Linked DNA regions of Homo sapiens: region 2 is linked to region 1. The links come from fine-mapping of genetic effects on gene expression. A gene starts in region 1. The other region holds a variant in brackets. All regions are shown on one strand. Distances are between the middles of the regions. Region 1 holds the start of PPP2R5E (protein phosphatase 2 regulatory subunit B'epsilon). Region 2 overlaps PPP2R5E (protein phosphatase 2 regulatory subunit B'epsilon).

The links. PIP is the estimated chance that this variant, and not a neighbour inherited with it, causes the effect. A credible set is the group of variants that fine-mapping cannot tell apart.
Region 2: its variant is the best candidate, but not a certain one, in a credible set for the expression of PPP2R5E in esophagus mucosa (GTEx, PIP 0.86).

Annotation. Positions count from the first base shown.
Region 1 is chr14:63,541,626-63,544,539 of GRCh38, forward strand. PPP2R5E (protein phosphatase 2 regulatory subunit B'epsilon) reads right to left here and starts at 1,752. Exons shown (of 14, transcript NM_006246.5): 1 at 1,154-1,752. LOC112268140 (loricrin-like) reads left to right here and starts at 1,159. Exons shown (of 1, transcript NR_158218.1): 1 at 1,159-2,914. RefSeq lists silencers at 1,248-1,387, 1,428-1,567 and enhancers at 1,804-2,795, 1,858-2,067.
Region 2 is chr14:63,503,447-63,506,360 of GRCh38, forward strand. All of the region lies in intron 2 of PPP2R5E (protein phosphatase 2 regulatory subunit B'epsilon), which reads right to left. Among named protein-coding and RNA genes, the nearest start is that of PPP2R5E, 38 kb to the right of the region's middle. The variant C/A (reference allele first, on the strand shown) is at 1,663.

The sequences.
Region 1 (2,914 bases):
TCATTCCAATAGACAAGACAAGTGGTTTTTAACTTCTAAATAAAACAGTAAGGGAATTTCTTCCTGAACACGTGAGAATAAAAAGTTACCTGGATTACGTGGATTTTGACAATGTAAAAATAACAAAAACATTTTAAAACACATGCACACATATGATGTTGACGTTTGGAATTTGGAAGTCTTCTTTGGTTTTCTTTAAAAAAAAAAAAGTTTTTAAAAATCTACCTAATTTAGCCTTAATATAATGTGATGGATTCAAAATAGAATCACAAACTATGAATGACTATAGATGTTAAGATCACTTTAAAATATCAAAATGACTGCATCAGCCAAAAGCTCCACATCTTATTTGTACGTTGTAAATTTAGGGGCCGATTTTCCATTCGGGTATGTGAATTATTTAGACTTCACTCTAACTCTAACACTACAACATTTCAGTAAATCCTCTTCCTCCATCACTCTTTTCGTCTCTTCTTTATTCCTTATCTCTCATCTCTACAGACGATATATAGGTAGCTTTTAAAAAAATCATTTACCCCTTATGCCCGAGGCCCAGAATAAACGTCAAGGATCGCAACCCTGAAGCACTGCAAAACTGAACGTAAGGTAACAGCGGGTCCGTGCAAAGCCCAGGGAAACAGGTTTCGCCCTGGGCCAGGGCTCCCGAAGCTTTATCATCCTCTAATCAGCAGGCATGGGGCATTTCCATGGCTCAGGATAATCCAAAGGGGGTAAGGGGAAGTAGGGAAAGACAGGGAAGGGGTTTGTCTGTGGGGATGCTTACATACTCCCTTTGCTCCTAACCCACACCCCAAGCCCTGGAGACGATAAGCTGCTAGAGAATCCTCCTCACACCAAACCCCTCTTTATTCCCCGCCCCCGCCAGTGGATAAAGGGGGGCAAGAAAACGCCTCCAATCCCAGAAGGTGGAGAAAAAGGGGGGAGGGGGCAGAGTGAATGAGAGGTATCATCAGAAGCATTTGTAGGTAAATCAGACAAGTGGGACGGGCGCTCCCGCTCCCGCACCCCACCCCACCGCACCCCTCGCCTGCCCGGCCAGGCCTTCCCAAGGCCGGTGCCCCATAGGTTCCCCAGGAGGACCGGGAGGAAGAAGGGAAGCGGGCGAGCCGCGGTGCTGGAGGGACTAAGTTACCTTGAAGCTTCTGGGGAAGAATCCAAAGATGATCTGTGGCTTGGAGGGGCGGGAGACGGGCGAGGTGGCCGCAGCGGGGGCGGGCGGCGGGACCGGGACGTGCAGGGGGAGGTCCGGGCAGCTGCGGGGAGCCTGGGGCGACGGCTGTCCGGTACGGGGTCCCTCCGGTTCCGCGGCGGCGGAGCCTCTAGGCCTCACGGCCGGACCCGAACCTCAGCGTTCCGGTGGCGGCGGCGGCCTCACGATCCTCCCCCGCGGGCCCGTCCCATCAAATCGGCACCGACCCCGTTGCGGCTCCGCCGGTGGCTCCTCGCTCACATTCCTGGCGGGCGGCGCCTCAGCTCGTTGCCCCGGACCCGGCGGCGGCGGCGACGACGTGGGGAGGGGGGGAAGGGAGGGAGGAAGACTGGATCTGCAGCGGCAGCAAGAGAAGGGGACAGAATAAGGAGGAGGAGCCGCAGGAGCTGGAGCCGCCGCTGCCAGAGCCACCTTTCGCTACCCGCGGTGGGTCCCAGTCAATGCCCCTTTCTCTCTCCTATTGTCAATATCACCGGGCGGCTGAGTCCATGGCACACGCGCAACCGAACCTTCTGGCCAGCAGCGCCCGCCTCCGGCGCCCGCCCACTGGAGACTTCAAACGGGAAGCGAGGCCTCATTGGCCAGTATCCGCCTTCACTCCCCTGACAGCATGTTCGGCTGAGACCTGATCAGGGATTGGCGGCAGGAGGGCGGAGAAACGGGAGGGTGGGAAGAGAGAAGGTCGAGGATTGGGCCGAAGCTTGAGGAACCCGGATGCAGCCGCGATCTCGGGCGGTGCAGCCGCCGCTTCCGCCCGGCAGTGGGGCAAGCTGAAGTGAGAAGCCGCTGGGCCTGAGAGGAGCTCTTTAATTCCGGGAGGTGTGCGACTAGCGGATCAGCGGGCTGGCTTTCCGTGCTGTGCGGAGCCTTTGGGCGGCGGTCGTCTTGGACCGGAGGATTCCAAGGGCTCGGGTCGTCTAAGGGTCGGGGAGCCCCGGAGACTTGATCCCGCCCTGCAGCTAGTGTGGCCCCTCAGGGTTTGGGGAGTCCCACTCTGGACGGGACCCTGTGATGCGTAGGCAGGAATAAGATCCCCCGCCCGTGCCGGTGTGCCACTGCTTGTGTAAATGGGCCCCTTGAAACCCCCAGCAGTCGCTCTCCGCTGAACCTTCTTCGAATTTTCTCTCACCTCATCTCCTTTTCCTTAAACGTCTGTTTTGAATATCAGACCCCTGTAGCGTTGAAGCCAGCGCTCGTTTAATTAATGCAGGTGGGAACGCTGTCGCCACAGTTTGCAGTCTATTCATTCAGAATAACCCGCCAGTCAGCCGACTGCTCAGAGCTCGGAAAGACCCAGCTCCAAACTAGGAGTTTCGAGATTTTAATTGGCAAGTTGGACCCGAAAGAGTTAATGGAGAAGACTACTTAAATCTATCTAGAACAAGTGATGAGATATTTGGAGATGTGTTTGCATGCTTGGTGAATGCAGACGGCCAAATGGTACATTTCCAGATAATATTCTTGGATTAATGTATTTGAATGCACCCTACGTACATTTTTTGAGAGGAAAAAAGGAAGAAAGAAATTATTAATGCTAACTACAAACGTCAGAGTACCAGTTGTTCAAAACTTAGAAATTGGGGGGGGGGACAAAAAAATTAACATTCTTATTTTCTCAACTCAGAGATAACCACTTACAGTATTTGCATACTTCCTTTTAGTATTTTTTCTCTTTATGTTAAT
Region 2 (2,914 bases), 38 kb before region 1:
TGCATATCCCCCAGGTAAAAGATAGCAAATCAACAACTCCAACCAATTTCTCAGGTGATTCCTATGCCCACTGAAGTCTGAAAACAACTGTTCCAGAGCAAAGGAGGTAACATAAGGCAAGCAGTAAGGGCAAAAAACACCACATTTATATCACATGTTAACACTGCAAGGAAGACAGTTGTTTTAGATGTTCTGTTTCAATACTCCCTACTATTATCCTTCCCCAAAAGCACTTTAATTTACTATATAGTTTAATGAATTTCACATCTGAAAATCATTAATAACCTGTCTTCTCTTAGGTATACTGAAACTACCAGAATTGCATGGGGGCCTTGAAAGCCCTTATTTAAGAGGTTCCGATGGCAAGATGTGAGGAAAACCATTTGGAAAAAATCCCAATCAGTATGCCTCCCTGCCCCAAAATATGCTTTACTAAGAAGGGCAGAACCCTGGTTTTAAAAGCAAAGCAAACAAAACAAAAACTCTTTCAAGTTCTGATTAAGCATGCAGTCCCAAAATCACACGCCAGTGTCCTCTGAGTGCAAAATTTGAATACATCACTTCATTATTCAGAAATGAAATAGATTAAAAGAGCTAGGGAATATGAGAAGTTTTGAATCACTCTCTAAACTACTTCCAAATTTTTCTTCCCAATCAAGAATCAGGCACAGGTATAGATTATTTCCACCGTAACACCTGAGTAGCCACTTGCCCAAGACCTGTACGTATTGTATAGATTATAAATTTCAAAGTTCCAAATACCTCTCACATTTTCTTGGCAAGCAAAACTTTTCTTGGCAATCAAAAAAAAAGCAAAAACAAAAACAAAAAAAACCCACCCAAGAAGTCAATTGGCCAGGCACGGTGGCTCACACCTGTAATCCCAGCACTTTGGGAGGCCAAGGCAGGAGGATCACTTCAGGTCAGGAGTTCAAGACCAGCCTGGCAAACATGGCAAAACCCCATCTCTACTAAAAATACAAATATTAGCCAGGCGTGGTGGCTCACGCCTATAGTCCCAGCTACTTGGGAGGCTGAGGCAGGAAAATGGCTTGAACCTAGGAGGCGGAGGTTGCAGTGAGCTGAGATCTCACCACTGTACTCCAGCCTCGGCGACAGAGTGAGACTCCACCTCAAAAAAAGAGGAAAAAGAAGTCAATCAAGTACTGCTTGAGAAACTATTTACTCATCGTATTAGATGTTTGGGGGAATGAGATACAAAAAACAAGGCTTACAGTCTAACTGGGGAGAGAAAACCTATACCCATGAAAAGCAATGGCCTGTAGAATGCAAGTGCCTTACACGTCTTAGTCACCCTTTACCCCCAGGGCATAGCATAAAATATGTGTTCAGTAAACACTGTTAAAAAAAAAATGCTGTCTTGGTCATCTTTGTCACTCCAGCATCTAGCCAAGTTCCTAATGCAATGTTTGCTGAATGAATGAATGATACCATGCTGTTCACATAAATATGTCTTGCATGACTTAGGTTAAGAAGATGGGGATCATTAAGGACTAAAGTAATCAAGAAAGATTTCATTGGGAAGACAAAGTTTTGAGTTATGAAATCTTAGAGCTGAAAGAAATCTTAAAGTATTACTAAGACCGGCCGGGCGTGGTGGCTCATGTCTGTAATCCCAGTACTTTGGGAGGCCGAGACAGG[C/A]GGATCATTTGAGGTCAGGAGTTCCAGACCAGCCTGGCCAACATGGTGAAACCCTGCCTCTACTAAAAATACAAAAATTAGCCGGACATGTTTGCTTGAACCCCAGCAGCCGAGGCTGCAATGACCCAAGATCATGCCACTGCACTCCAGCCTGGAGGAAAGAGTGAGACTCTGTCAAATAAATAAATAAATACTAAGACCATCTAATCTGGTAGCTCCAAAAGAAGTTTCCAAAGATGCCAAAAGCAGCTTTACACCTCTAAGGTTAAGAAGATAATTAACCTTGGTAATGACCACTTTAAAATTGAAGAAATCCCATAAACACCATGGTCATTACGATACATTAATAATGACAACCTGCTCACACACTGAACACTTCGCCATTCACTCTGCTCTCCCCACCCCTTCTCCACACTAAGAAGCCCATGCAAGGAGGCTGAGTTCTTCAAGCTCGTCTGCCTCCAAGCAGTCCTTGATAAAGTATGGACTGCAAGCTGGAGAATCACAGCCTTCTGCACACACTCTACAATCTGAATCTAAGCTGGTTCATAAAAATTGAAGACCAACAATCTGGACCAGCTGCATCCCCTCTCACTTGACAGAGTTCCACAGAGAAATCCATGCATTCATTCAGGCAACATTCAGTGACCGTCACATACTACCCTATTACCCACACCAGAAACTCAGTTAGGAACATAGTAGACACAGCACCTGCCTCCCAAGGTATCACTGGGTGAGGGAGAAAATACTACAAATAAATTACAAAGCAATGTGGGGAGTATTATAATCAATATGAAAAAATATATACACCCTAGGTATCCAAGAGACAAAATCACAACGTTGTGTAAAGTCAGGCAAGGCTTTCAATAAAAGGTAGTGTTTCTTTCATTCATTCTTTGACAAATATTTTCTGAGCATGTAAATATTTGCATGCTTCAAAGGGCACCATCAAGAAAAGGCAACCCACTAAATGGGAGAAAATATTTGCAAATCATATATTTGATAAGGGACTTATACCCAGAATATAAAAAGAATTCTTCACCTTAATAACAAAAAGATTGGCCGGGCGCAGTGGCTCAAGCCTGTAATCCTAGCACTTTGGGAGGCCGCGGCGGGTGGATCACAAGGTCAGGAGATGGAGACCATCCTGGCTAACATGCTGAAACCCCGTCTCTACTAAAAATACAAAAAAATTAGCCGGGCATGGTGGCGGGCGCCTGTAGTCCCAGCTACTCAGGAGGCTGAGGCAGGA